Linked DNA regions of Homo sapiens. The protein of the gene in region 5 interacts with the protein of the main gene of each other region in a pairwise test. Each region holds a gene or a part of one and is shown on either strand. Other genes may lie near its edges.

Evidence for each region.
Region 1: the proteins of DUSP26 (region 5) and GRIPAP1 interact in binary tests that used the Homo sapiens proteins (3 or more experiments, as listed by UniProt).
Region 2: the proteins of DUSP26 (region 5) and RET interact in a two-hybrid assay, tested with the Homo sapiens proteins (one study listed by BioGRID and IntAct).
Region 3: the proteins of DUSP26 (region 5) and CARD10 interact in binary tests that used the Homo sapiens proteins (3 or more experiments, as listed by UniProt).
Region 4: the proteins of DUSP26 (region 5) and PTK7 interact in a two-hybrid assay, tested with the Homo sapiens proteins (one study listed by BioGRID and IntAct).

The regions. Positions count from the first base shown.
Region 1 is NC_000023.11:48,981,765-48,987,849, forward strand, and holds part of GRIPAP1 (GRIP1-associated protein 1), read right to left. Parts: coding exon 6,021-6,085; intron 3,639-6,020; coding exon 3,504-3,638; intron 2,107-3,503; coding exon 2,011-2,106; intron 1,677-2,010; coding exon 1,464-1,676; intron 1,329-1,463; coding exon 1,215-1,328; intron 109-1,214; coding exon 31-108; intron 1-30. UniProt on the Homo sapiens protein: Regulates the endosomal recycling back to the neuronal plasma membrane, possibly by connecting early and late recycling endosomal domains and promoting segregation of recycling endosomes from early endosomal membranes.
Region 2 is NC_000010.11:43,124,103-43,130,187, reverse strand, and holds part of RET (proto-oncogene tyrosine-protein kinase receptor Ret isoform a precursor), read right to left. Parts: intron 5,306-6,085; coding exon 5,206-5,305; intron 3,614-5,205; coding exon 3,466-3,613; coding exon of another isoform or gene 3,434-3,465; exon of another isoform or gene 2,077-3,433; coding exon 1,919-2,076; 3' UTR 671-1,918; coding exon of another isoform or gene 537-670; 3' UTR 1-536. UniProt on the Homo sapiens protein: Receptor tyrosine-protein kinase involved in numerous cellular mechanisms including cell proliferation, neuronal navigation, cell migration, and cell differentiation in response to glia cell line-derived growth family factors (GDNF, NRTN, ARTN, PSPN and GDF15).
Region 3 is NC_000022.11:37,512,522-37,518,606, reverse strand, and holds part of CARD10 (caspase recruitment domain-containing protein 10), read left to right. Parts: intron 1-498; coding exon 499-636; intron 637-2,308; coding exon 2,309-2,634; intron 2,635-6,085. UniProt on the Homo sapiens protein: Scaffold protein that plays an important role in mediating the activation of NF-kappa-B via BCL10 or EGFR.
Region 4 is NC_000006.12:43,155,186-43,160,721, reverse strand, and holds part of PTK7 (inactive tyrosine-protein kinase 7 isoform a precursor), read right to left. Parts: intron 1,906-5,536; coding exon 1,754-1,905; intron 935-1,753; coding exon 756-934; intron 2-755; coding exon 1-1. UniProt on the Homo sapiens protein: Inactive tyrosine kinase involved in Wnt signaling pathway. Component of both the non-canonical (also known as the Wnt/planar cell polarity signaling) and the canonical Wnt signaling pathway.
Region 5 is NC_000008.11:33,595,847-33,602,395, forward strand, and holds the start of DUSP26 (dual specificity protein phosphatase 26), read right to left. Parts: upstream 4,178-6,549; 5' UTR 3,819-4,177; intron 1,914-3,818; exon of another isoform or gene 1,746-1,913; 5' UTR 1,670-1,745; coding exon 1,449-1,669; intron 1-1,448. UniProt on the Homo sapiens protein: Inactivates MAPK1 and MAPK3 which leads to dephosphorylation of heat shock factor protein 4 and a reduction in its DNA-binding activity. Inhibits MAP kinase p38 by dephosphorylating it and inhibits p38-mediated apoptosis in anaplastic thyroid cancer cells.

The DNA.
Region 1 (6,085 bases), on a different chromosome or scaffold from region 5:
GAGAGAGGAACACCATCATGCGAGAGGCACCTTCAGCTCGGCAGCGTGCTGCTCCCGACACTGCTTGAGGGCTTCCTCTTGTTCCTGCTGCTGCTGCTGCAGGGATTCCTACAAGACAAGTCCCAGGTCTGGCCACAGCCCCCCAGAAGGTATCATGCCCAGTTAGGGGTATGAGGGACTGCAATGGGGGCCCAGAGGTATGCAGAAATGACCCTCCTGCAGGGAACCCCACACGCCCTTAGGCAATATGCTGAAGTGTCACATCTAAAGTTGCACCATTCGCATGGTTGACTTAGATTTGCATTTACATTTTATTTTATTTAACAAAACATAGCGCTTACTACATGCCAAGAATGTTCTAAGGGTTTTACATATATTAACTCATTTTCTATAATCCTCCCGTAATACCTAGATGGTAGATATTATTGTTACCCCCTTTTTACCATTGATGAAAACAGGCCACAGAGAGGTCAGATAACTTGCCCAAGGTCACACAGCTAGGAAATGGCCCAGCCAGGATTCAAACCTAGACAAACAACTGGCTCCAGCCTGTGCTCTTCACTGCTACATGACAATGCCTTTCAGTGTATTATGAGATTTCCAGAAAATGGCAACAAAGGTTCTTTTTCCGAGACAGAGTCTCACTCCGTCACCCAGGCTGGAGTACAGTACACGATATCAGCTCACTGCGACCTCTGCCTCCTGGGTTCAAGTGATTCTTCTGCCTCAGCCTCCTGAGTAGCTGGAATTACAGGCGCCAGCCACCATGCCCGGCTAATTTTTGTATTTTTAGTAGAGACAGGGTTTCACCATGTTGGCCAGGCTGGTCTTGAACTCCTGACCTCAAGTGATCCGCCCACCTCGGCCTTCCAAAGTGCTGAGATTACAGGCGTGAGCCACCGCACCCAGCAGGTTCTTGTTCAATAACATCAGTGTATTGCATTAATTTCCTGACAGAAGTACAGTTTCAGGAGAAAGAGGTGCCTTTCCAAATTTGCACAAAGGCAGGGCAGCCTTAACACGTGACAGTCTGTCCTATCTGATGGCCATCCCCTGATCCACTCCAGAGGGCTGCTATTGAGCCAGGGGACTGTGGGGATATCCCTAAGTCCAGAAAATCTCGGGAAGTTCCAGGGCCTGACCACTCCTGCTTCTGTGGTTTGACATGAGGGCCCCAATCAGCCTCTGTTCCTCACCAGGCATCACCAACTCACCTCGGCTTCCTTCAAGCGCCGTTCAAACCAGCCCTTGGCTCCATCCATGGAATGTACCTGAGCTTGAAGTTCTTCCACTGTCTGCTGGAGAGTCTCCAGCTCCCGTGTCCGGGCCTGGGATGGGGCAGACTGTCATGGGCCAGGAAGGCAGAGGAGCGGGCACCTGATGCATGCCACCCACTGGCCTATCAGCAACGCTGTGGTTCCCAGGTTTTAGAGGAAGAAGGGCATCATCATCTACCCACCCACCTTCTCCTCCCGGATCTGCCCACGGAGCTCCTCCTCCTGACGCTTCTTGTCTTCATGCAGCTCTCGGAGCTCACGCTCATAGCGGGCACGCACCCCCAGCACCTCCTTCTCATGCCGTAGACGAACTGCTCCCAGCTCTTCCTTGTGCTGGGACTTCTCTTGCAGCGTTTCCATTGCTAGCTCATCCAGCATGGCCTTCCGCTTCTCCGCACTCTGGGGGCCAGGACGATGGCAGTCAACTTCCTTCCACAACATCGAAAAAAGGCCTCCAACCCTCTTCCCATGCCCAAGGAACTAGCCAAACTCCACTCCCTCCCATCCCCACTGAACTGGCTAAGGCACTCACCCATCCTTATAGAACTGGTCACTTTCTTTCTTTCCCCTCCCACTCTCATGGATTTGGCCAAGAAACTGGTCAACCAGAAACCAGTCAATTTTCCTTTCCCTCCTATCCCCACATGTTTGGTTATATCACCTCCTCCCATCCCCATGGACTGAGCCAATTCCTACCCCCCATCCTCTCCCTTCAACCCTCATGTTCCCCTACCTTCCGAGCCTCCTGTAATTCCTGGGTCAACTGCTCCTTCTCCTGCCCTATTTCTTGAAGTTGTTCCAGCAGTCGACTATTGGCCCGTAATGACTCCTAATGCAGACACCAAAGGGAAAGAGTTTGATAAAGAGCATCCAGTAGGTGCTAGTCACCCAGGACCATCTGGTAGACCATCTCCCTTCTCCCTGGTAAAGTTGGTATTGTGATCTCAATTTCTGGATAGGAAATATAGCAGAGACTGCTAGTTGCTCCCCAGTATTCATTCTTCCTTACTTCCCTAGCAATAAAATTTATCATCGGGCATACAGCTGTCTAGCAGATGTTTCCCCTCCTCCCTTATGGTTAGGTGTGGCCATGTGATTTATTTCTGTATGTGGAAGTGGTGAGTGTAATTTAGGTTATGCTCTTAAAGGAAAGGGGCACACTCTTCCCTGCCCCTTTCCTCCTTCCTTCCAGATAGAATACAAACATGATGGTCGGGGAGTTTCAGCAACCGTCTTGGATGCCAAGATAAAAGTCTTGTGTTGAAGGTGGAGGAACAGCAATGGAGAAAGAACCTGGGTCACAGATGACTGGAAAGCCATCATTCCATCCCTGAATAACCTACCTGGACTTTTAATGAGAGGGAACTAAATTTGTATCTTATTTAATCTACTATTATTCTGGTTTCTATTATGGAATCAGAATGGATATTGCTTGGGAGGCTGAGCCGGGTAGATCTCCTGAGGTCAGGAGTTTGAGAAGCCTGACCAACATGGTAAAACCCCGTCTCTACTAAAAATACAAAATTAGCTGGGCGTGGTGCCAGGCGCCTGTAATCCCAGCTACTCCGGAGGCTGAGGCAGGAGAATCGCTTGAACCCAGGAGGCGGAGGTTGCAGTGAGCTGAGATCGCGCTACTGCACTCCAGCCTGGGCAACAGAGTGAGACTCCATCTCAAAAAAAAAAAAAAAAAAAAAAAAGGAGCCGGGCGTGGTGGCTCACGCCTGTAATACCAGCACTTCGGGAGGCCGAGGCGGGCAGATCACGAGGTCAGGAGATCGAAACCATCCTGGTTAACACGGTGAAACCCCGTCTCTACTAAAAATACAAAAAATTAGCTGGGCATGGTGGCAGGCGCCTATAGTCCCAGCTACTCGGGAGGCTGAGGCAGGAGAATGGCGAGAACACGGGAGGCGGAGCTTGCAGTGAGCCGAGATCACGCCACTGCACTCCAGACTAGGTGACAGAGCAAGACTCCATCTCAAAAAAAAATTAAATTAAATTAAAATTTAAAAAATGAAAAAGAATTGATATCCTAACTAACTGAAGAGGCTCAGTTTCAGAGAAGTGAAATGACTTGTCCCAGAACACACAGGTGCTAATAAGTTAGGGAGCCAGACTGGAACCTAGGTCCTCCTGACTCCAGTCTTCCCACTCCACCTTACTGGGGACTTCACTGGGCCATTACTAGGGAACTAGGAAGAGACAGGCCAGAGCCAAAGGTGTTACCTGGAGCTGGGAGTTGAGGTCATCTTTCTGTCCCATAAGGTCCTCGTACTCAGCCTGCTGCTGCTGCAACTCAGCTGCCAGCCCAGTGGTCTGTTCCCGGAGCATATTCAGTTCTTGGGTCTTTGCTGTTTGGATCTGGAGAAAGTAGTGGTGATGAGAAGTAGAGTGAAAGGGACCCCAGGGGCCAGGGACAGGGTATGAGCCCCCTAGTTCCAGGGAAACAGGGAGGGAGGTGGGAAGAGAACCAGGAAGAGAGAGGAAATTTCAAACAGAAAAACAATGAAGAGAATGGGTAAATGTGGTATGTTCATACAATGGAATACCACACAACAGTAAGAGAACAGATCTGTGCTGCCACGTGGATAAACTTACATAGTGCTGCCAGAAAGAAGTCAGAGACAAAGAGCAGCTGATTCCATTTATATGAAGTTAAAGAACAAGCGAAATGAATCTTATGTTGCTAGAGATCAGAATAATGGTTACTTCTGGGGGAGTACTGACTTTGAAGGGGTAAAGGGGACCTTCTGGGGTACTAAAAGTGCTTTATACTTTGATCTGGGTGGTGGCTATGGTGGCGGGGAGAGAGAGAGAAAAAAAAGAGAGAGACGAAGAGAGGATTCACTGAGTGTACACTTAAGATTAGTACATTTCATGCACTTTACTAGAGAGAAACTAGAAACAAAGAAAAGCAGAAGCCGGGCGCGGTGGCTCATGCCTGTAATCCCAGCACTCTGGGAGGCCGAGGCGGGTGGATCATGAGGTCAGGAGTTCGAGACCAGCCTGGCCAAGATGGTGAAACCCCGTCTCTACTAAAAATACAAAAATTAGCTGGGCATGGTGGCACACGGCTGTAGTCCCAGCTATTTGGGAGGGCTGAGGCAGGAGAATCGCTTGAACCTGGGAGGCGGAGGTTGCAGTGAGCCGAGATCGTGCCATAGCACTCCAGCCTGGACAACAAGACCGAAACTCCGTCTACAAAAAAAAAAAAAAGCAGAGATAGGCCAAGCACAGTGGCTCACACCTATAATCCCAGCACTTTGGAAGGCCGAGGTGGGAAGATAGCTTGAGGCCAGAAGTTTAAGCCAGTCTGGGTAACATAGTGAGACCCTGTCTCTACAAAATAATTTTGTTTTCTCTTTTTTGAGATGGAGTCTCACTCTGTCACCCAGGCTGGGGTGCAGTGGCACAATCTCGGCTCACTATAACCTCCACCTCCCAGGTTCAAGCAATTCTCCTGCCTCAGCCTCCCGAGTAGCTGGGATTACAGGTGTGCGCCACCATGCCCAGCTATTTTTTTTTGTATTTTTAGTAGAGACGGGGTTTCACCATATTGGCCAGGCTGGTCTCGAACTCCGAACCCCAGGTGATCCGCCCGTCTCAGCCTTCCAAAGTGCTGGGATTATAGGCGTGAGCCACTGCGCCTGGCCTAATTTTTGTATTTTTAGTAGAGACAAGGTTTTGCCATGTTGGCTAGGCTGGTCTCAAACTCCTGATGTCAGGTGATCCGCCCACCTCTGCCTCCCAAAGTGCTGGGATTACAGGTGTGAGCCATCATGCCCGGCCAATAAGTTTTTTTTCGTTTTGTTTTTTGTTTTTTTGAGACAGAGTTTCACTCTTGTTGCCCAGGCTTGAGTGCAATGGCACGATCTCGGCTCACCGCACACTCCACCTCCTGGGCTCAAGCAATTCTCCCACCTCAGCCTCCCGAGTAGCTTGGATTACAGGTGCCCACCACCACACCCAGCTAATTTTGTATTTTTAGTAGAGACGGGGTTTCTCTATGTTGGTCAGGCTGGTCTCGAACTCCTGACCTCAGGTGATCCGCCCTCCTCGGCCTCCCAAAGTGCTAGGATTACAGAATTGAGCCACCATGCCCGGCTTTTTTTTTTTTTTTTTTTTTAGACGGAGTCTCGCTCTGTTGCCCAGGCTGGAGTGCAATGGCACGATCTCGGCTTACTGCAACCTCCGCCTCCTGGGTTCAAGAGATTCTCCTGTCTCAGCCTCCCGAGTAGCTGGGATTACAGGCACACACCGCCACACCCAGCTAATTTTTTGTATTTTAGTAGAGATGGGGTTTCACCGTGTTGCCCAGGCTGGTCTTGAACTGAGCTCAGGCCATCCACACATCTTTGGCCTCCCAAAGTGCTAGGATTACAGGCATGAGCCACCACGCCCTTTTTTTTTTTTTTTTTTTTTTGAGACAGAGTATTGCTCTGTCGCCCAGGCTGGAGTACAGTGGTGCGATCTCGGCTCACTGAAACCTCTGCCTCCTGGGTCCTGGTTCAAGCAATTCTCCTGCCTCAGCCTCCCCAATAAAATTTTTAAAAGTTAAAAAAAAAAAAAAGTAGGGATGGATGGCCAGAGAGAAGAGGGCTGGACGCCAACAGAAAGGAGCAACAGAAACAAAGACAGGAGAACAGCATGGGGTCCAGACCACCCTACCCTGATGTGGACCAGAAGCAGATGGAGATGGGGGAACTGGAGAGGGATCAGCAAGGGCCCCCAGGTGTTCTTTACCTGCTCCAGGGCAGCCAGGCTAGTCCTCAAGGCATTGTTCTCAGCCAAAAGCCCTTCCACTTGTT
Region 2 (6,085 bases), on a different chromosome or scaffold from region 5:
TTCTGCATTTACGTGTATGAAAATTCCAGTAGAGCTAATAAGGATGGGGACTTTTATAACTCAGGAATAGACAATTAGGTTATTGGTCAAGGATAAATTGGTCAAGGATAAATTCCCCATCACTGGGTCAGCTGTTTAGACCTGGAGTTCTTACCCTCCTGAGAACAAACCTGTTGCAGCAATTCACACTTACTGTGTAGGCATTTTTAATAATTTGAGAAAGTTTATTCTTATTTCTGCATTTAGTAAGACTATCATTAAGCATATCTGAAAACCAAAAGTTTACCATGTCTATAGATATTTGTAAAAGAACTTATCACAGTGTATCTGAAAAACAGCCCAAATTAGAGCCAGGTTACGTGTCCAATAAGCATTTTTCAAACTCTCCCTCTGGGTGTGTGCGCACACACCACAAGGCTCTATTACACACGCATCCAAGCCTTGGCCTCACAAAATGCCACAATTTTGCTGTTTTTGTGAAATGCCTATATAAAATACAGTATTTGAATGAGACTATTTTAAGTCCTATCAGTGCTTTAAGTCTGAAGAGCAGGCAGTGTTTTGGTAATCCGACTCTTTTCTGCGAAGTTACAGTGCTGACAACACAGCCAGAAGAGCTGCTGAGACTTCCCAAAAGCTGCCCCCACAAGACTGGAGGAGTGTTGTGCATCTGTGACCACAAACAAGCAATGAAGAATGACAAGAAGCTTATGAGTCATGGTCAGAATCTAAGAAACAGAAACATCTTGTAGCAGCATTAAATTACAAACACAGGAAGAGCTGATCCATGGGCCTTTCACACAGGCTCTATAAGAGCCAAACACCATCTTTTTCACATCAGAATTGTAATCAGAGGTGTAGCAGTCCTTGGTCATTGTCATTGCTACTTCTAACACAGCTAGCTAGCCTGTCCCTTTATGAGTAAGTTGATAAGATTCAAATTAAAGTGAGTACAAGCCCTACCTGCTCCTAACAGGTAGGATGAGCCACTGCTTTCGCCTCTACTTGGCTGTGGGGTGTGCTGCAGGCTGGTGGCAGGTGGGATTCACAGCAGCAAAGCCTCTGCTGTCAGCAATTCTGGGACTCCAACAGCCCCCTTTCTTCATACTGTTCTCATCAGGGGTAGTGGCTGCTCAGTACCGAACACGTGAGGATGATGTGGTGGGCCCGGGGGACAAATGTGTCTTGTGAGCCCTCTTCCCTGATACCACCATCCACATAGTAAAGATGGCATGGAATCTCTCCATTGTGCTAAATCTAGGAATCATCTTAATCATGATGAAAACCAAATGTCTTCCTAAGGAAAGGTTGCATGATTTAAAAAAAATCATTCTCAAGATCTCGAATGCTGAGCCCAGGCCCATCCTCGGGGCCCCTCTTCCCCTCCAGCCCTGGAGGGGCATTGACACTACCCCCAGGCCCCCCCCGCAGTCTCTCATTCTGAATAAGGACAGGTCATCAGGGCCAGCATTTTTCCTACTGCCTTTTTTGTGTGTGTGCTTCATGTTTAAATTTTTTTGCCTTGTTTGGCGGCAACTAGAAAAATCCAACAGTTCAGGTCCAATTTCATACACCAGGTAGTAAGTGTTGGACCCACACATGTGAACACAGAATGTTGGTGGTCACTGATGGACACAGACCAACACTGGGTGCTGCTGGGCACTGAAGAGAAAGGAATGCTTAACCACTAAGACTCAGAGCTCTTACCCGGTGTGGCATGTCTGCTAGGAGGGAAAATCACCGGCTATCAGAAGTAAAACCACCTTGGAAGTTAAAACAAACTACCAAAAACGAGTCTGCCACCTGGGAACTGAACACGGCTCGGCCAATGTGACGTTCACAAAGAAAGGGCCGGTAGACTTTCCATTCTCAGCATGTTTCTTCCCCTTGTGAGTCCATTACCTTTCACAAAGAAATGTTAACTATCAAACGTGTCCATTAATTTTGCCGCTGAGGGTGAAAGCATCCAGTTAGCATATACACTATCATTTGGATATCTTGGAAACCCAGTGTTAGTGCCATCAGCTCTCGTGAGTGGTACAGGACTCTCTCCAGGCCAGTTCGGGTCTGACATGCCTAAAAATGAAAACAGATCATTTGTTCTGCACTGAAGAACCAAAACTTCAAGTGCAGACAGTAAGGCCTTGGCAAAACTCCCTTTGATGTTCAAACCAAACTCGTGGTTTCTGTGCCAATTATATTAATGGTTTTGTGTTCCAGGTTTCCAAAAACACTGTTATAGTTAGGGGAAATATCATGTGCTCTCTTGGTAAATGTAACTTAACAGACACTACCAATTTTGACTTTTATGAACTTGAGACTCTCTAATCTGATGTATATTTGTCGAACTGCTTAACTCTTTTTCTAAGGCAGTGTAGGGCAACAGCACACTGCTGCACTCAATGGCTTACTGCAGCGGAAACGTTCTATAAAACATTCTCTAACGTAAAGGAGGCACTCGTCTGTTGTCTGAGCCTACAACGGAGAAGAGGACCTTCCAAATCGAGGGTGCACACGGGCCAGCCTCATAGCATCGTCAGCACAAATGGAGTGTGGCACTAGACACAAAGCCAGTGAGGAGTCAGTGAGTCAGGAGGCATGCAAAAGGAACCGTCTCAGCTTGAAAAAAATGCTTGAAACTCCAAGATTTCAAACAATCAATGATGAAGTTAGGAAACAGAAAAAATTTCTAGTATTTAATCAAAGACAAAAGAAGGAGTTTTGGCAAGAACCATATTTACTGTCCATTGTAAGACCACAGCACCACAGACCATGTTCTTTCAAAAAGCAACTGCTCCAGCTTTAGCACTGACTTCATAAGTGACAACCGTCCTGAAGGTGGGTAAGGGAAAGGATGTGAAAACAGCAGTGGGGGTGCGTCCTCCCAGGGCCAGCCAGCTCCTGCAACCTCGCTACCCCTGATGGAGGACATGTGGCTGGGACTGGGGCTGAGGCTTGGCCAGTGGCTGCTCGCCAGTGCCGGGTGGCCTCTGAGAGGCACCTGCCTGCCCAGGAGGGGTCTGGGGGAACCTGGCTGTGCTCCCAGTGCAGGCTGAGTGGTGCTGGTGGCTCCTTTCTCAACTGAATACCTCCCCAGATTTGTATATTTATCCACTTAGTTAAAGTAGAAGTACTATGACTTGATTCCCACCCCAGAAGCGCCTTATTCAACCTGTTCTTGGTCTCCCCTGAGAGTTCCGCCCTGATCTGTTTTTTCCTCTACCATCCTAAGTTGCTGGGCAATGTGGTAATTACACTTATTTTCACATCCTTTTAGAAAAACATAGTTGCAATAATGCCTAAATGTAAACTGGATGCAAAGTCAGACATTTACAAATAAAAAGGTTCAGAGCAGACTTTGGTTTTGTTCAGACCAGAAACATTTTTAAAAAGCATCACAGAGAGGAAGGATAGTGCAAAGGGGACAGCGGTGCTAGAATCTAGTAAATGCATGGGAAATTCTACCATAGAGTTTGTTTTCAATCCATGTGGAAGGGAGGGCTCGAGGGAGGGGGGCATTATTACAGTCCACCAGCGGTGTCTCCTCCTCTGAGAGGCCGTCGTCATAAATCAGGGAGTCAGATGGAGTGGACGCCGCAAGGTCCAAGTAGTCCTGGAAGACAGAGATGGCCGGTCACTCCAAGCCATGTGCCACAACTAGATACAACTCAGTATACAACAAGCCATCCTCAGGGCAGAGGCTCTGGCTGTGTCTCCACCTCGCACCAATCTCCTGACCTCTCCAAGAGACCAGGGCCAGGCTGCATAGAGCTCCCAGGACTCCTGGCTGGCCTGGTCCTGCTCTGAGGTCCCCATCACTCCCCTGGGTGTTGTCTATTCTGTCTCTTCCCCTGGAAAGTCACCTCCCTGGGGAAAGAAATGTGCTCCCTCAGCGTCTTATCTCCAGGGCCTGGAGGGCAGCCTTGGGGGACGCCTCATCTAGCTGCCCCTGGCCCAACCCGGAGATGGGCAGCACGGAACCAGCCCGCTGACAAACCCTTGGGCTCTGGGGGAGCCCACTGCAGCCACATGCCAGGACGCAGCCCCAGCCTGCAGGATGTTTTCCAGCTTTCCCCAAGGACCCCTGCCATCTAGAACGTCACGTCAGGGCTGAGTTCTGAAATCTGACAGCGCTGTCAGGGTGCACAGGACCCTGCTACAGGCACGGGCTCCCCAGCACGAGGGGCCACTGGCGTCTGCTCCTTTCAATGCCCAGCTTGAATGTGCACAGAGGGGCCCAGCGTTTTCCCGGCTGTTTCTCAGCACTGTTCTAGGAAGGCCAGCACCAGTGATCGCTTCTGTTTTGAACAACGCTGCATTCTCAGGACTTGAAGTTTTCATCCAAGCGAGACAGTGATGTGAAGTTTTCCTATGGGGTCCTAGGTCCTGCATCCCGCTATCCAAGTCGGAAGAAGTGACAACTCAGTAAATGTGCCAATGTTAAGACAAGGCCTGTGTGTAAACCCCGTGAGGGCAGGGCTGTGCTGGTCTTGTTTATCTGCATTCCCAGCCTCTGAGACATAGTATGGGTCCTAGCAGCTGCCTGATGAATATTGGTTGAAAATGTGTAGACCTCACAAACTGTACTTCCAGGCACACAGGCTGACTCTGGCCACCCCCCGATATGCTTTGTTTGGCCTGCGTTCGGCTCTGGGAAATTTAAATGAATTGTTAACAATAAAAACTGGGAGACAACATAAACCTCATAAAATTCAGAAGACCCAGCCCATTCCTGGCTCCTTTTTCTGCAGGCCACAGGTACTCCAGCAAGGAACCCTTTGGAGGGGGCTGGCTGTTTGCCACAGTCTCCACTGCTCCTTACTCACTGCCCTCCTCCAGCCGGACCCCCCTCTGGGCATCTGAATTTTGGGCACTTGCTTTAACTCAACTTTCTCATTTTCCATTATGGAAAACTATTTCTTTTTGGCTTTGGAATATTTTCCTCCCATGCCTGTCTGTAGAGAGCTTTTCCTAAATGTCAAGAATCTTGGTTTCTTCATGACTTGAAAAGAAGCCCAAGCGGCCTGGCCTGAGAAGGGTTCAATCTGCTGTCTGCATGCAGGGGAGAGCATGACTCTCTCTCTCTGCACAATCCCACTGTGGCCCCACACTGGGAACTCTGAGGGCTAAAACTACTGCCCTGGGGTGAGGCTGGAGTCTCCCCAAGCCACTTTCAGCTTGTGGGAATTGGACCCAGGCACTCACTCTCCTCTTAACCATCATCTTCTCCAGGTCTTTGCTGATGTCCGCAAACACCGGCCTTTTGTCCGGCTCCTGCTTCCAGCATTGCAGCATCAGGCGGTACCTGGTGGGAAGAGCAGACAGGCCAATATGATCCAAGCAGGGCCAGGTCTCAGAAGGACAGCCCACCACAGCCATCGCACCCTGCCCTGTACCCTGGGCCCAGTGTGCTCTGTCTCCAACTCCAAAGCTATTTCTGCATCGCTGACATCTCTGAGCCTCGTGGGACTGGGGCATGGCCTGTTGCAGGATCCCAGCCCGTGGGCCACTGTGCTCAGGTCTCTCAGAGCTGTGGTCCAGAATCCTACAAGCTTCCCTTCCCTCCAAGGGAGATTCATTTTTACTTCCCTTGCAAAGACACTGGTAAACAGCTCACTGGATACTATGCTTGCTCTGGCAGCTAAGTGAGAAGTGCCAGTCCTTAAAACTCTCAAGAAGAATGAATTGATTGAGGGCTTTTAGGTGTGGAGACAGACAAACAAGAACCTTTGGCAATCACACGTCTGTCCTGCACCGTCCTTGCTTGCCTGGGTGCCCAGGCAGACCACAGCGCTCCAGCTGGCCACCAGCTGGGGGCCCAGGGAGGTGGTACCTGGCTTCTCGGCCCAGCATGCCCCCTCCACGCCCCAGCAGTGTGCACACTCTGTGGAATGCATGTACCATGCATCTCTGCCTCTGGGCAGCCCTTTCTCATCTGTTCTCAGCCTGGTTTCTAAGACCATCTCCCCTGAGAGTGTAAAGGTTTCAACCTCTCAGGTTGCAGCCCAGGCTGCCCCTGCCTGGCTCTGCACCTCCACTCAGGCACCCCTTAACACGTGCCCCCTGGGCCATCTGGAATTACCTT
Region 3 (6,085 bases), on a different chromosome or scaffold from region 5:
CTGTCTGTCCCCTCCTCTGTGCACCATACACTCCTGGGGGAGTCCTTTTTCAAGTGTCAAGATCCGTCTCAGCTTTACGTGGGTCCCCACTCCCACAGGGTGTGCCTTTGAACCAGAACTCAAAAAGGCATGATGGAATGGTCTTTAATGGTGGAATTTCAGGCATGGCCAATGGGAGAAGTATTTTCTTTGCTTCTGGGGATAGAGGGGGCTTCTCTGTGCCATTGAAAAGGCAGGCTGCATTTGCGGGCCGGCATCTGTGTCTGTGGGGGGTGTTGGGGAGCTCTGGGAGCCCAGGAGTCATGAGGGAATGTGCTCCCCTGGCTGTGGCAGAATGGCTCTCTTCTCTTCCCTGATGTGTTGGGACAGGCCCCTGTGTGTGTCACTGGCTCAAAAATCTGGGGAACGTGGGCCTGGAGCATGGTGGGGGCAGAAGCAACCAGGCACCTGGGGAGGCCTTCCCCTAGACCCTGGGTACATCCCCCCACTACTCTGTAGGGCGCCTGATGGACATCTTGCGCTGCCGTGGCAAGAGGGGCTATGAGGCCTTCCTGGAAGCCCTGGAGTTCTACTACCCCGAACACTTCACGCTGCTCACGGGCCAGGAACCCGCCCAGCGCTGCTCCATGATCCTCGGTGAGTGGATCTGCGGTGGATGCTGGCACCTCGGACTCCAGTGCACAGGCTCCTTTCCCCATCCCTGTTAGGGAGGCGCTCCCACTATGCCTGTTGAACAGTAAGGGAAACTGAGGCATGGAGAGGCTGAAGGGGCTTGCCCAGGGCCCCACGGTAGGCTGAGGGTGGGGCTGGGTGCTAGTGCCGTTATTCCAAGTTCAGAGCCACATGCTTAAGATGGCTCTTTCTTCGTGATACTGTTTTCAGACATATGTCTGACATACACAGATGTATAGTTTTTTATGTAAAAAAATACAGAGGCTCCAGGTGACTTTGAATTTTTTTTTTTTTGAGACAGTGTCTTGCTCTGTCACCAGGCTGGAGTGCAGTGGCGCGATCTCAGCTCACTGCAACCTCCGCCTCCCAGGTTCAAGCGATTCTCCTGCCTCAGCCTCCCGAGTAGCTGGGATTACAGGCATGGGCCACCACGCCCTGCTAATTTTTGTATTTTTATTTTTAATAGAGATGGGGTTTCATCATGTTGGCCAGGATGGTCTTGATTTCCTGACCTTGTGATCCGCCTGCCTCGGCCTCCCAGAGTGCTGGGATTACAGGCGTGAGCCACTGCGCCTAGCTGAATTTTTTTATATAAAAAACACAAACACATACACACACGCACACACGCCTACGTGTGTATTTTGCTTTTTCTTAGAACAACTGATTTTAGTGATTCTTTCACCTCTGTTACATACACTTGTTTTAAGTGACTGCATACTGTTCATTAGTGAAGTTAGGACATAATTCATTTAACCCATTTCCAGTTGATGGATACCTAGGTTTCCAGTTTTGTATTATTACAACGATACGGGAACATCCTTGTATGTGCGTCTTTGTGCAAATGTGTCTCAGGCGAAGAGGTTCTGAGAAGAATTTCTCAAAGAGTCTGTGTATTTTAACTGTTAAATCAACATACCTCCTACCAGGAATGTGTAAGGGCCCATTTGAATCCTGGGGATCATGTTTAAACGTTTTTACCATTCTGATATGTAAAAAATAATGTTATTGTTTTAAGTTTATATTTCATTGAGTGATACAGTTCACAGGTTACTAGTTATTAAACCTTGGGTAAATAACTGCTCTGTGCTTCAGTTTTTCTGTCTTTAAGATGGGTACAATAATAGTACCTACCTTACAGTGTTGTCATAAAGATTAAGATATATCTAGCACAAAGAATGAAGTTAACAAATATTAGTAGCTACTGTAATTATTGTTGATAGGTTGGTGCATATTTTCCTGTATTTATTAACTATTTTTATTTTGGGACTTGCCTATTGATAGTTTTTGTCCATATTTTTATTTGGTTGTTGATCTTATTGATTTGTAGGAGCTCTTTATATATTACGGCTCTGAGTTCTTGTTATATTTTCTCCCACTCTGTTGCTTATTAACTTTGTTACATCTTTCATTTTTCAAAGGTTTAAACATTTTTATATGGATTTGTCCATCTTTTTTCTCTTATAACTCCTGGATTTTGTGTGTTGTTTAGGAAGACCTCCCCTGCTCCCAATTCTACAAATATATTCCAGAATTTCCCTCTAGTGTTTTTATGGTTTGAGTTTTTTGACACAGTATGTTATCTCCTGGATTTTACTTGCCTGAGCTGCCTATTCTGTCCCCTGTTCTGTCCTGGCAGATGAGGAGGGGCCTGAGGGCCTGACCCAATTCTTGATGACAGAGGTGCGACGGCTGCGGGAAGCTCGCAAGAGCCAGCTGCAGCGGGAGCAGCAACTGCAGGCCCGGGGCCGGGTGCTCGAGGAGGAGCGGGCAGGGCTGGAGCAGCGGCTGCGGGACCAGCAGCAGGCTCAGGAGCGCTGTCAACGGCTGCGGGAGGACTGGGAGGCGGGCAGCCTGGAGCTGCTGCGGCTCAAGGATGAGAACTACATGATCGCCATGCGCCTGGCACAGCTCAGTGAGGAGAAGAACTCGGCTGTACTTCGCAGCCGTGACCTGCAGCTGGCGGTAGGCCCTGGGGAGATGGGTCGGGGAGGCAAGGGAAGGGGCAGCTTTTGCAATGTAGTAGCCAGCCAGCCTGTGTCCCAGAGCCACCATTGCTGGCTCTTTGACGTGGATAAGTCCTTTTAGTGCTCGGTGTACCTACTTCATTGGGTTATGACTGTGGTTCTCAATGGGGGGTGATTCTGACCCCCTAGAAACATCTGGCCATGTCTAGGAAATATTTCTGGTTGTCACAATTAGTGGGGATTTATTGGCATCTGGTGTGTAGAGGCCAGGGATGCTGTCAAACGCCCTGCAGGGCACAGGACAGTCCCCAGCAAAGAATTACCTAGCCTAAAACATCGGTAGGGCCGGGGCCAAGAAACACTGGGTTATGAGGATTTGATAAGTTGTTTTTTTTTTTTTTTTTTTTGAGATGGAGTCTCACCCTTGTTGCCCAGGCTGGAGTGCAGTGGTGTGATCTCGGCTCCTTGCAGCCTCTGCCTCCCGGGTTCCAGCGATTCTCCTGCCTCAGCTTCCCGGGTAGCTGGGATTACAGGCTCGTGCCACCACACCCAGCTAATTTTTGTATTTTTAGTAGAGATGGGGTTTCACCATGTTGACCCGGCTGGTCTCGAACTCCTGACCTCAGGTGATCTGCCCGCCTCGGCCTCCCAAAGTGCTGGGATTACAGGCGTGAGCCACCGTACCTGGCCCGGTGAGTTTAAGACACAGTTTCAAACATGTACAGTCCCTAGCACACTGCTCACAACTTGTGTCATCAGTAGCCATTGTTGATATTATTATCAAGAGACACATAGGTTAAACATCATGTCTTCTAATCCTCACCAAAGCACCATACGCCAAGCCCTCATTTGCAAATACAGACTCTGAGACTCAGATTAGTGAAAGGACTTGCTCAAGGTCACAGAGCCAGGAAGCGGCACAGCCTGGATTTGAACCGGGTCCGGCTGGCTCCAGTGCCAGCCCCCTTCCCACGCTGCTGTTCCGCCTACTCCCTGTGTGGGGAAGTCTCACCTGACTCCCTCCAGCAGCAAGTGAGGCTGTGCCTCCTACTGCATCTCACTTTCTTGGTTTCTGACTGGGACTCAGCAGGGGGATAATACCAGTATTTGACTGCCACAGGGCGTTGTTCCAAGGATTTAATGAGCTGATCCACGTCAAGGGCTTAGCAGTGCAGGCCGCACGGCACGCAGGAGGCTCTCTCCAGCCATGTTGCTCGAGGCTGCACAGTGGGTTCTGACCGTGGAGTTTGAAGCCTCCCTACCCCAGGAGCCTTGGGCCGTGGCTACAGCATTGCAGGTGGCTGTGAGGCTGTAGATGTGGGTGCACTGGTGTGCCAGTCCTCGGTTTGTGCACGCCAGGTGGGTCGATATCTTGGGGAGGTGAGCCCTGATGGGGGTGTTGAGGCCACCAGTTGAAGGGTCCAGGCTGCTGGTCCTGCTTGAGGATGTAGGTGGCTGGTTTGAGGTTGTGAGATGACCTTGAGGCTATCGTTCGAGGGCCTGGTTGGTGTGTGGCAGGAGACGGAGGCTTTCTGAGGAGTGATGGGCAGGGACAGGGACATGTCCCAGGCCTGCTCTACTGTGAAAAACCATGTGGCATGGGGAAGGCTTTCCTTTCTGTGCCTCAGTTTCCTCATCCTCATCACAGATAAGGATGATGTAACAATTATAAAACGGCCTTGTGCTTTATAGATACCATCCTCAGTGCTTGCCATGCACAGACCCCTTTAATTTTCCAGCCACCCTACGCTGGGGTGGACAACACTATCTTCCCCATTTCTAGAGGAGGAAACTGAGGCACAGAGAAGTTGGTTAGAGCACTTTCCCAATGTCCTGGGATTGAAGGAATTTTTTTTTTTTTTTTTTTGAGATGGAGTCTTGCTTTGTTACCCAGGCTTGAGTGCAGTGGTGAGATCTTTGCTCACTGCAACCTCTGCCTCCCACGTTCAAGCGATTCTCCTGCCTCAGCCTCCTGAGTAGCTGGGATTACAGGTGTGTGCCACCATGCCTGGCTAATTTTTTTTTTGTATTTTTAGTAGAGATGGGGTTTCACCATGTTAGCCAGGCTGGTGTCAAACTCCTGACCTCAGGCGATCTGCCCGCCTCAGCCTCCCAAAGTGCTGGATTACAGGCATGAGCCACTGTGTTCAGCCGGATTGAAGGATTTCTGAGTTGGCTCTCAGCACTGCTGAGGGGCGGTGGCTGGCAGGTAGGAGTGCTCCCCTTTCTTTACCCAGAGGGCTTCCCCTTTTTTCTGAAACAGACATGGGGCTTGCTGTAGGGTTTTCTCAGAAGAAATAATTTACTGCTTAGAGAGGACGGCGTGAGGGCTGCAGGCTGGGGGTACTGGGAGGGGCTGCAGCCCTCACGGCTTGTCCCACCTTTGGGTTGGGTGTGATGCGATTGGGAGATGTCCTGCGTGTGTGGCCATCTGGGGGCTGCTGGGACAGGGGAGGGGGATGGAAAAGAGATGGTCGGAGGTGCCTCTGTAGTCTGCAGGTCATCTGCCTCTACGCAGAGTGGCTGCTTTTTCCTATTTTAGGGACCTAAGAAGTGAAATTGGCCAGGCGCAGTGGCTCATGCCTGTAATCCCAGCACTTTGGGAGGCTGAGGCGGGTGGATCATGAGGTCAGAAGATTGAGACCATCCCGGCTAACGTGGTGAAACCCCGTCTGTACTAAAAATACAAAAAATTAGCCGGGCGTGGTGGCATGCACCTGTGGTCTCAGGGACTCGGGAGGCTGAGGCAGGAGAATTGCTTGAACCCGGGAGGTGGAGGTTGCAGTGAGTCAAGATTGAGCCACTGCACTCCAGCTTGGGCGACACAGCGAGACTCTGTCTCAAAAAACAACAACAAAAAAAGAAGTGAAATTAAACTTAGCTACTATAAATTTACCTTAATTTATAATTTATGTTTGGAGCTTTTCTGCTCCAAAATTAACAAAGGTGTTGCAGATGGATCTGAACAGAGCACCTGATCGTGCCTGGCTTGGCGGCTTGCATCCCCACCTCCCATAGGCAGGTGTGTGGCGGCTGGGATTTAATACCCTGTTTTATAAGGTGCAAATTTAATGAGCTGTTATTTCTAAGCAACATAAACTGAAGGAACGAACGCTATAATTTTGTGCTCAGTGAGTTTGTACGCCGGGATTAAATGCATCCGTATTTCCTGTTGCTCGTCGGAGACTCCCAGGTGTCCTGTCCTCTGAGCTCATCAGGGAAGCCGGCTGGCCAGGGGTCAGGCAGGAGGCCCTGGTGTGTGGCTGCGGTTTGCTGAGAGGGTGTGACCACAGTTGTCCTTGTAACGAGCTGTCTTTCTCTGGCTGTTCACAAAGCATGTTTTGTGAGTGGAAAGGAATGCGGGAGTCATGAATTTCTTTCTGAGTCTCTTGCGGAGGAGGAGGAGTGGACTGTTAATTTGTAGAATTGCCTGACCCAGCCTCCAGACC
Region 4 (5,536 bases), on a different chromosome or scaffold from region 5:
TCTGTAGGGAAGACAGCAGGTGCAGTGTTGGCCAAAACATTCAACAACTTGTTCAACACTTTGTGGACCTTGCAGTTTATACAAGCAGCCACCCAAGGATGCCTCTGGGGCAATGCTGGCCAGCGGCAGGTGGGTACCCGCAACGGAAAAAGATGACTCCCCTGGCCCCACTCACTCTGGCTGGTAGGACGGGGTCCATGCATAGGAGCTGAAGTGGGCTGGCGGACAGGCGTCAGAGTGGCTGGAGTGGGCACTGGGGGCAAAGGCTATTTACCAACCAATATAGAAGTATTGCAGTATTTTCGGCCAGGTGTGGTGGCTCACGCCTGCAATCCCAGCACTTTGGGAGGCCGAGGCGGGTGGATCACAAGGTCAGGAGTTTGAGACCAGCCTGACCAACATGGTGAAGCCCCCCCATCTCTACTAAAAATACAAAAATTAGCCAGGGAGTGGAGGTGCGTGCCTGTAATCCCAGCTACTAGGGAGTCTAAGGCAGGAGAATCGCTTGAACCCAGGAGGCAGAAGTTGCAGTGAACGGAGATCGGGCCACTGCACTCCAGTCTGGGCGACAGGGCGACACTCCGTCTCAAAAGAAAAACAAAGTATTGCAGTATTTTAACAACCAGAGTGGTTGTATCTGTGTGCCTGCTCAGTAGCAGCCCTGAGAGGGAGGTAGGCTGAACCAGCCCTGGGGCCCTGAGTAGGCCCCATCTGGGGCCCATCTGGAATCATCCCCTAGCAGCAAGGCTGCCTACCTGCCAGTACTTCATCATCTGCCTGCCCACCATGGGGCATCTCTCCATGTGTAAACACTTCCCACATCAGCACACCGAAGGCCCAGACATCAGACTTGGTAGAGAAGTCACCCTCCAGGATGGCCTCGGGGGACATCCAGCGCAGCGGCACCCAGGCCTGGCGGAAGTGGTAGTACTCACTGCAGGAGAGAAGCAACCCAGGGGTGAGGTGGGGTGGGAGCGTGGCCTGGCGCTGCACCCTCATCTCCCCATCTGGAACGCATCCCCAAGCCGGGGGCCCAGCCTTTCTACATACAGACATCAAGAAATTGGTCACATGCGTGCTGAGCATGGGAGTACACTAGACAAAATCTGGAGGTAACCACACGAGAGGTTTGATGGTTAAAAAATTTCCATTAAGAATCAAACTTTGCCTAAATGTTAACAGAAAAGTTAATAGTCATACATACTTTCTATATTGGTTGTAAAAATGTAAAAACTAAGAACTGTTAAATGGAAAGAGCTTTATTAGTGATAAACCAATCCTCACTACAGCTATAGTCAGACAAATGGGGGTGACCTGGAACCAGAGGGACTCAGGGTGATGTTCCCGGCAGCGCTGCAGAGCCCTCGTAGGCTGTCTAGAGCAAGCTCTGGCATGGGTGCTGAGGCATAAGTCTCAGACTTCAAAATAATAATGACTGAATTCAGGAAGTTACAGAGAGAGCCATATAAATAGATTATATATAAATCCTTATCAAATTTGCCTATTTTTTAAAAAAGGTTTATTTATTTATTTAATCGCTAGAGACATTTTACAACCACCAAGGGTGTGCACTGGGTGGGAAGCCTGCTGCACCCTTGGAAAAAGGATGAGAAAGCTCTTCCCTATCCCAGGCCCTCCAGCTTTGGACTAAGCAGGCACTAAACCCTTTCCCACACCCCCCAAACTATCTGTCCTCTGCCCCTCACCCTCTGGGAAAAAATGGGGAGCCCCCACCCCACGCATGCCCTTCTACCTGTTGTACACATCCTTGCTGAGGCCCAGGGCAGACACCTTCACTTGTCTCTGGGCACTGACCAGGCAGTTACGCGCAGCCAAGTCCTTATGCACAAAGCGGTTGTTGGACAGGTGCTCCATGCCCAGGGCTACCTGGGTGCATAGGGCCACCTGGAGAGATAAAGGGGCCTGTTAGAGCAGCCCAGGAATAGGCATCAAGATGACCACCCTCAACACAACCCTTGGTAGCGTTTCAACACTATTGGTGTGCTGCGTAGGAAGCCCAGAAGCACAACAGCCTCAGCTTCCTTCTCTGTAAAATGGGGATAATAACAGTACCTGCCTTCCTGGGTTGTTAGAAGACTGAACTAAGCAAACTAAAGTGCCTGACACCATGCTGACACACAGCAAGTGCCAGATTAAGTGAGTGGCACATGGGCCTAAGGGCACATACATAGTAACCACTTGTCCAGTGAAAAATAAGTGGGCAGAAATCATAGCTGATATTTTTTATTTTCAAGTGACAGGGTCTTGCTCTGTCACCCAGGCTAGAGTGCAGTGACATGATCACAGCTCACTGCAGCCTCTAAACTCCTGGGCTCAAGCAATCCTCCCACCTCAGCCTTCCAAGTAGCTAGGACTATAGCTGTGCATCACCATGCCCAGCTTACTTTTTTTTTTTTTCTTTTGAGACGGAGTCTTGCTCTGTTGCCCAGGCTGGAGTGCAGTGGCATGATCTCGGCTCACTTCAAGCTCTGCCTCCCGGGTTCACGCCATTCTCCTGACTCAGCCTCCCGAGTAGCTGGGATTACAGGTGCCTGCCACTACGCCCAGCTAATTTTTTTGTATTTTTAGTAGAGACGAGGTTTCACCATGTTAGCCAGGATGGTCTCGATCTCCTGACCTTGTGATCCGCCCGCCTCGGCCTTCCAAAGTGCTGGGATTACAGGCATGAGCCACTGCGCCCAGCCCCCAGCTTACTTTTTAATTAAAAAAAAAAATTCTTTACCAAGGCAGGTGGATCACCTGAGATTGGGAGTTCGAGACCAGCCTGATCAACGTGGATAAACCCAGCACTACTAAAAATACAAAAATTAGCTGGGTGTGGTGGCACATGCCTATAATCCCAGCTACTGGGGAGGCTGAGGCAGAAGAATCGCTTGAACCCAGCAGGCGGAGGTTGTGGTGAGCCGAGATTGCGCCATTGCACTCCAGCCTGGGCAATAAGAGCAAAACTCCATCTCAAAAAATATATATATATATTTCTTTGGTAGAGACGGTGTCTAGCTACGTTGCCCAGGCTGGTCTCAAATATCTAACCTCAAGCGATCCTCCTGCCTTAGCTTCCCAAAGCACTGGGATTTCAGGTGAGTGGCACCATGCCTGATCTTAGATGATATCTTTATGGGTTGTTTCTTTTTCATTTTACTTCAAAAGTCTATCTTTTCTACTAGTTGTGTTAAAAATATGTGTGTGTATGCTGGGCATGGTGACTCATGCCTGTAATCCCAGCACTTTGGGAGGCTGAGGCAGGAGGACTGCTTAACCTCAGGAGTTTGTGACCAGTCTGGGCAACATAGTGAGACTCTATTAAAAAAAAAAAAAAAAAAAGAAAAAAAAAAATATATATATATATATATATATATATATATATATATATAGCGTGTGTGTCTGTGTGTGTGCACGCACGTGTGTGTATGTGTTAAGGCATATAGACCCATATGACTGGCTGCCTCCAAGGAACGGAACTGGAGGCTAGAAGGTAGAAAGGTAAGAAAACTTCTGGCTTACATTTTTTTGTGGGAAAAAAAAAAAAAAACCACAATCCAACAATGCTAGCACTCAAGAGTTCCTTCCCAACCATATGTTCTCCCTCCCCTCAAGGAGTAACCACTACCCTGACTTTTGTGATAATTTCTTTCTTGTTCTTTGTAGTTTACCACTTACATGTTCCTAGATAATATAATTCCATTTTGCCTGTTTCAGAGCCAGATTAAAACTGGAAGCACACAAAATGTATACTCTTTTGTGCCTGGATTTTTTTTTTTTTTCACAACATTGTAAGATTCTTTTGTTTGTTTGCTTGTTTTGAGACCAAGTCTCGCTCTTGTCACCCACGCTGGAGGGCAGTGGTGCGATCTCGGCTCACTGCAAACTCCACCCCGCTGGGTTCAAGTGATTCTCCTGCCTCAGCCTCCCAAGTAGCTGGGATTACAGGCGCGCACTACCACGCCTAGCTAATTTTTGTATTTTCAGTAGAGATGGGGTTTCATCATGTTGGCCAGGATGGTCTCGATCTCGTCCTCATGATCCACCCTCCTCAGCCTCCCAAGTGCTGGGATTACAGACATGAGCCACTGTGCCCGGCCTTTATTTTTTGAGATAGGGTCTCACTCTGTCACCCAGGCTGGAGTACAGTGATGGTGATCACGGTTCACTGCAGCCTCGCCCTCCTGGACTCAAGTGATCCTCCCAACTCAGCCTCCTGTGTAGCTGGGACAAAAATGTGTACCATCAATCCCAGCCTTTTTTATTTTTGTATTTTTTTGTAGAGACGGGGGTCTCCTTATGTTGCTCAGGCTGGTCTCAAACTCCTGGGATCAAGCAATCCTTCCATCTCTGCCTCCCAAACTGCTGGGATCACAGGTGTGAGCCACTGGGCCAGCCAGGTTAATTTTTTTAAATCACTGGACATGGTCTGTTTTTCATTATAAACATCTCATATTTTAATTCTTTTTTTTTTTTTTTTTTTTTTTTTTGAGACAGGGTATTGCTCTGTCACCCAGGCTGGAGTACAGTGGCATGACCTCAGCTCACTGCAACCTCTGCCTCCCAAGTTCCAGTGACTCTCGTGCCTCAGCCTCCCAAGCAGCTGGGATTACAGGTGCCCACCATGACACCCAGCTAATTTTTGTATTTTTAGTAGAGATGGGGTTTCACCACATTGGTCAGGCTGGTCTTGAATTCCTGACCTCAAGTGATCAGCCTGCCTCAGCCTCCCAAAGTGCTGGGATTACAGGCGTGAGCCACCACGCCTGGCCTCATACTTTAATTCTAATGCCAATGGGTTGTTTCCAGTTTGGGGCTATTAAGAACAGCGTTATTATGAACACTTTTATAAGTGTACACATGTATGAGTTTCTCTAAGATACCTAAGACGAAGTCTAGAATATGAATATCTCTAGCTATACAAAATAATGCCCAACTCTTTTCCAAAGTGAAAGAGTTGGGGAGATTTTTCATTCATTAATACTCTTTTTAGAATTTTGAGCCAATGTGAATATATTATATTATACACTATATATGAAACGTAACTAAATTACATTAACTTTTTTTTTTTTTGATGGAGTCTTGTTCTGTTGCCAGGCTGGAGTGCAGTGGCCTGATCTCGGCTCACTGCAACCTCCACTCCGCCTCCCGGGTTCAAGCGATTCTCCTGCCTCAACCTCCCGAGTAGCTGGGTTTACAGGCACATACCACCACGCCCAGCTAACTTTTGTATTTTTTCTAGTAGAAACGAAGTTTCACCATGTTGGCCAGGCTGGTCTCGAACCCCTAACCTCGTGATCCACCTGCCTCGGCTCCCAAAGCACTGGGATTACAGGCATGAGCCACCACACCCAGCCACATTAACATTTTAAAAGTATGTATTAATGCACTGAACAAATATAAATTGAAGCCAGGCACCTGTAGTCCCAGCTACTCAAGAGGGTGGGGTAGGAGAATTGCTTGAGCCCAGGAGTTCAAAGCCAGCCTGGGCAACATTGTGAGATCCTATCTCTTTAAAAAAAAAAAAATTTGA
Region 5 (6,549 bases):
CCCGGGCTCTGCTACTTACAACCCGTGTGACCTTGGCCAGGCACAACTTCTCTGAGCTTCAGTCTCCTCATCTGTAACCCAGGGAGAGTGATACCTATCTCACAGGGCTGTTGTGAAGATTAAGAGAGATAATGTGTGTGAAAAAAATCCTTGTAGGCCAGGCACGGTGGCTCATGCTTGTAATCCCAGCACTTTGGGAGGCTGAAGCAGGTGGATCACTTGAGGCCAGGAGTTCAAAATCAGCCTGGCCAACATGGCTAGACGCCGTCTCTACTAAAAATACAAAAATCAGCTGTGTGTGGTGATGGGCGTCTGTAAGCCCAGCTACTTGGGAGGCAGAGGCAGGAGAATTGCTTGAACCCGGGAGGCGGAGTTTGCTGTGAGCTGAGATTGGGCTACTGCACTCCAGCCTGGGCAACAGTGAGACCCTGTCTCAAAAACAACAACAATGCTGGGCACGGTGGCTCACACCTATAATCCTAGCACTTTGAGAGGCCGAGACAGGTGGACTGCCTGAGCTCAGGAGCTCAAGACCAGCCTGGGCAACACGGTGAAACCCCGTCTCTACTAAAATACAAAAAAATAATTAGCCGGGCAAGGCGGTGTGTGCCTGTAGTCCCAGCTACTCTGGAGGCTGAGGCAGGAGAATCGCTTGAACCCGGGAGGTGGAGGTTGCAGAGAACCAAGATCGCGCCACTGCACTCCAGCCTGGGTGACAGAGTGATACTGTCTCCAAAAAAAAATAAAAGAAAGAAACCAAAACCAAAACAAACCAAAGAAGCAAAAGAAATCCTTGTATAACTTTGAGGGAGAGAAGTGGGGATGGCTCTTCCTTTGATGTTTTTCTCTCCATAGCCTTCAAATTGCAGAATCTCTGTAGGCACTGCCGCTTTGCTTGGTCTCAAGAGAAACCACTGCAGCTTCCTACCTACTGCTCCTGGCTTCCAGTGGCTGCCTTTTCCCAGAGACATTGCACAATAGATGGAAGGTCAGAGAAGTCATCTATTGTGCCTGGTATGTAGCACTGGCATGTAATAATAAATATGTGATACATGAATGATATTATTACTGGAACAGAGTCTTTCTGTCCAGACTTGGGTATTTTTATTTTATTTATTTTATTTTAAAATAATAAGTAGAGATGGGGTCTGGTTTTGTTGCTCAGGCTGGTCTAGAACTCCTGTACTCTAGATACTCCTGCCTCAGCCTTTCAAACTGCTGGGATCACAGGCAAGAGACACTGTGACTGGCCAGAGTTGGGCATTTCAATAATCCTGGCCAAACTCTCCCAAACCTGCAGCCTCTACTCTTGGCCCATGTGCCCTATCCCCTCAATCTTCAACCAGGAACCAATGACACCACTGCATACCTGTCTGCCACCCTTCTCCTTTCTTACACACACAAACACACACACGCTCTACCGTGGGCCCAGTCTGCCCGATACATACTGGTCTCCGAGATAGAGGCCTGGCCAGACCTCGTCGGCATGGTTACAGGCTGTCTTGCCTGTGTAGAGGAGCCGCTCCAACTCGAAGACATTGAGGAAAGGATGTTGAACGGTTGGCATCTCCTCCAGGGTCCCTCGAGTTCGAACAGGAGACCTTGAGCTACTCCGGGAGAAGCGGGCCATAAAAGTCATAGAAGCCCAAAGCCAGTTACCAGGGCACATCTTAGAGGTGGCAGAAACCGTGGCAGCTGCAGGAGTGGCTGTGGTGATGATGGGTTCAGTTGCCAGGTAGCTGCTGCTGGAAGAGGAAGGGGTGTGAGACACACTTGAGTGAGTCCAGAGCAGCTGCTTCCCTTCCCTGGGCTGGTCCTTCGGGAGAAGATTCTCGAGGGAGAGAAGGTAAGCCTGGCTCTGGCAGGAGCCTTCAGGGGTGGCTTTTTCTTCAAGCTGCAGCAGCTCCTTTTGCTCAGCTCTTTGGCTCTGCCACGAAACGAGGTGGGAGAGTCACATGTCCTTGTTTACGGGGAGAGGGAGCTGCCCAGCTGCTAGGTTTCAGCTTCATCACCCCACCCCCACTGCCAGCACGCATACACACACACACACACACACACACACACGGCACTTGGGTGGTTGTCCCCACTGCTGGGGATCTTGCCAGCTGGAATCTGAGTCTCATCTGCCTGGGGCTATCGGCAGAGAGCCTAGGGAGCTGGGATGGGGTTGGGGGTACCTTTAGACCCATCCAAAGAGAATTAGCAGGGAGACAACAGCAGCTGAGGCCATGACACATGTCAGGCCTGCCATCTCTGTGCCAGAGTTAGACTTTAACCCCTTCGTGACCTGCCACTGCCTCAGAGATAAACCTGCTATGGGAAGGGTGTGGTGGGGGTGGGATGGGGTGAGTGGAGAATAGCAATAAAGAGGAAGAGTAAGTTTGCAAAAAATAAATACTTGCTGAATGCATGAGCTTATGGAAGAAGGCACCAATCTATGTGCACAACAGGCAAACCACCCTCCTTGGATCAGCATTAGGAAATTACTGATCAGATCTCAGCTCTAATGTGAGAATTTCTGAATCTAAGCAGGGTTGGAGTGTTTTGTCTGTGTGTGTCTTGAGGGGAGGGTGACAGAGGTGGATGGTGGGGGAATTGACGCAGGGTTGGAGTGTTTTGTCTGTGTGTGTCTTGAGGGGAGGGGGGACAGGGGTGGGTGGTGGGGGCCTAGAAAGCAGGAAGGAAAGGGAAAAATGAGGGATCCTGCCAGGTCCAGGGGCTCAGAGGCTTAGAATTACCAACCGTATGGCTGTTGGAGTCAAGTGACCCTACAAAACACGAGGTCAATAACGAGGGGCTTAGCAGGTGTGTCTCAGATTACCTGTTGAGCTGCAGAGCTGGGAAGGACCAGCGTTTGAGGCTTGCCCTGGGACCTTCAGGCAGGGAGGCAACAATGGCAAGGCCCCTTCCCCCTCCCTCCCCATCCTCTCACACCTGTGGTCCTGCCTGTTTGAAAGCAGGAGGTCCTGGAGCCTGCAGAATCCCCTTCCACTCCCTTCCTGGCCTCCTGCCAGGGGGACTTCAACTCTATGACCAGCAGTGAGAGGCCATCTTTGTCCCTGCCCATGCTCTGTCCCCATCTCACACCCCTAGACAGGGCCCAGCTCTCCCTTGCTCCAGTGCCAAGAGAAACCAAGCACTTACAAGGCATTAGAAGCAGGGGTTTTAGGACCAGGATTGGTGAGGGAAGATTGGATGTTAGGGAGTTTAGGGAGAGAGAGTTTTCAATGGCTGGGTCCGGAAGGAGCACAGAAATATAGCACTACAGCCATCATCACCACCACCATCACCATCATCACTACCACCATCACCACCATCACTATCACCATCATCTTCTTCTACCTTTGCACCCAGGCCTAAAGACCCCATTACTGTATTGCAATACAACCTTTCCTCTTAGAGAGTCTGCTGTCTACGAGATGATGAATGGGATGGGGGAAGCGTGAAGGAGCCCAGGTCTAAGAAGGATCTCCGTGGGGCTGTTTTTCCCGGGGGATGCAGAAGCCCCTTTCTGTCCAGGGATACAGCCCTGGGCATTCTCCAATCCCATCCGTCGGCTCCAGGGGCCCTGGCCCGCCGCTCCCTCCCTCCGCCTGCGGTCGCCTTTGTAACAGGTCCATGGCTGTCGCCCCAGTCCTCGCCAGCCTGGCAGCCGGGCCCCGCGCGCGGAGGGAGGGCGCCCGGGAGAGAGAGGCTGGCTCGCTGGGCTCGGGTGCCCGCTTCCCGGTCCCCTCCCTCCCCCGTCGCCCCTAGCTGGGCGCCTCTCCCCAGCGTGGAGAGCCAGCTGAAAAGGCGAAGGCCCGCCGCAGCCCCTCTACCTCTTTGCAAGCGCTGCGCTGGGCCTCAGTCCGAAAGGCGGATCGCCGGCGCAGACAGCGCCACGGCCATGACGCTCCTGCTGCTGTCGCCGCCGCTGTTTCTGCCCAAGACAGGTTGACAGATTAGCAGCTATTTTTAAGCCATGACACACACGTCGAAGCAGGGTTCAAATCAGCGTGTGCGCTGGTGACATAAAGGGACTCGGTCTCACATTCGGTGGCCCGAGTCGCCAGGCAGCGTGGGCTCCCCAGCCAACCCCCCACGAGCCCGCGCGCCTTGCAGACCAGACACGGCCCCGCCGAGCCCCAGCAGCACCGCCTGGAATGCATGCGTGTGTTCTCAGAGCTGCACCAATTACAAAGCGTTTTGCCTAAAGATTACATTATAAGTCATCCCAGGCACTGTCTTAAACACACACACTCCTCCCAGACAGAATTAACTAATTACATAGACACGATTCTGTGCACTGGCTTGTACATGCCTCGGTCTCAAGAAACCGTGTCATAAAGAACAATGGTCCGAAGCCCCCATTAGCCTTCATTATATGCCATGTGCTTCATTTAGCTTAAGGCATTTTATACTCCCCACAAGTCTATGAGGGAGACATAATTACTATTGTCCTAATTTTAGGGAGGAGGCGACCTAGGCACAGAGAGGCTAGGTACTCTGCCCTGGTCACACAGCTCGTTACTGGCAGAGCTGAGCTTGTTCAAACAATGCAGCCTGGCTTTGCAGTTTATGTCCTTAACCACTCTCTAAACCAGTGCCTCCCACAAAATGGAGAAGGCACCATGGATTTCCTTCATTCAGGAAGCCATTTCCACCAGCTCAGCTCATAGTGAACTTCACTTTCCCCAGACTCTCAAAACATTCATCTTCATATTTCTTTCTTTCTTTTTTGAGATGCAGTCCCACTCTGTCGCCCAGGCTGGAGTGCAGTGGCGCAATCTTGGCTCATTGTAACCCGCCTCCCAGGTTCAAGCCATTCTCCTGCCTCAGCTTCCCAAGTAGCTGGGATTACAGGCGCCCGCCTCCATGCCTGGCTAATTTTTTGTATATATTTTTTCTTTGTTTGTTTGTTTTTTAGTACAGATGGGGTTTCACCATGTTGACCAGGCTGGTCTTGAACTCCTGACCTCAGGTGATCCACCCACCTTCTCTCAAAGTGCTCAGATTACAGGCATGAGCCACTGTGTCCGGCCATCTTCATATTAATTTCTCATGTGCTGCCTTCTAGTGACATATTCACTTGATCGGCATTTTTATTGTAAGCACCAAGATTGTAAGCACTTTGAAGGCAGGGACTGTGCTACCTTCCCCAGTGCCTACCTTATTGTGTGAGAGGGAAGTGGGGGAGATGATAAATGTTAGCAGATGATGCTGTTGAGAACTAGGCTGGCTTGAACTCTCGCTGTCTACTAGAAGAAAGGCAGAAAGTAGATTGGCTCAGATTGAAGCTGATGGTGTCAGCTATAGCTGAAACCAGGACTGACTCCATTCCCAGCAGTGGTGGCAGATCAGGTTTTGATCTCTGGGTTAGAGAAAGTACTGGCCAATGTGACCAATCCCCAGGTTCCATGACAGGCTGCCATCCAAGTTTAATGTACCGCCTAGCCTTTTTTTTTCTCTAGAGAAACAAAATTCTTTTCACTTTTCCTTGTCCCTTGTGTTACAGCAGTTTAAATATGAAATGAAATCCTTGTCATTTAAAACAAAGAGGCAGGGCATGGTGGCTCACACCTGTAATCCCAGCACTTTGGGAGGCCAGGGTGGGCAGATCACCTGAGGTCAGGAGTTCGAGACCAGCCTGGCCAACATGGTGAAACCCCATCTCTACTAAAAAACAAAAATTAGCCGGGTGTGGTGGCAGGCGCCTGTAGTCCCAGCTACTTGGGAAGCTGAGGTGGGAGAATCACTTGAACATGGAAGGTGGAGGTTGTAATGAGCTGAGATCATGCCACTGCACTCCAGCCTGAGCGACAGAGCGAGGCTCCCTCTCAACAAACAAACAAAAGCGAAAATAAACAATCAAACAAACAACAAAAAACCCCAAGGAATTGACCTGAGAAATTTGAGATTTTAATTTGCGCATCCAAATTAAAATTTGGATTTAATTTGCAAACCTAGTTAAAACATTATCATAAAAGGAATTGTGAAAGAGCACTTACAAGATCAATATCTTTTTTTTGTTTGTTTGTTTGAGACGGAGTTTTGCTCTTTTTGCCCAGGCTGGAGTGCAATGGTGCAATGTCAGCTCACCGCAACCTCCACCTCCCGGGTTCAAGCGATTCTCCTGCCTCAGCCTCTCAAGTAGCTGGGATTACAGGCATGTGCCACCATGCCTGGCTAATTTGGTATTTTTTAGTAGAGACAGGGTTTCTCCATGTTGGCCAAGCTGGTCTCGAACTCCCGACCTCAGGTGAAGATCAATGTCATTTTAAGTGAAAAGTCTTCAAGATTGGTAGGTTGAGAGGATGTTGTAGGTAAAGCTGATCTCAATCTTTGACAAGACCTCTGTTTCAACCCTGCATTACACTTTTTTCAAAAAGCGGGGAAAATACAGTTTAAAGTACACCACAGACAATGTGTACAGCTGTTTATGGGTAATTATAGAAATTACCTGGGGACTGACATATCCGTGAGGATCATTTTCATGAGTCGATCTATAGCCCACTTGATTTCTTTTGTTTTGTTTTGTTTTGTTTTTTTGTTTGTTTTTTTGATTTTTTT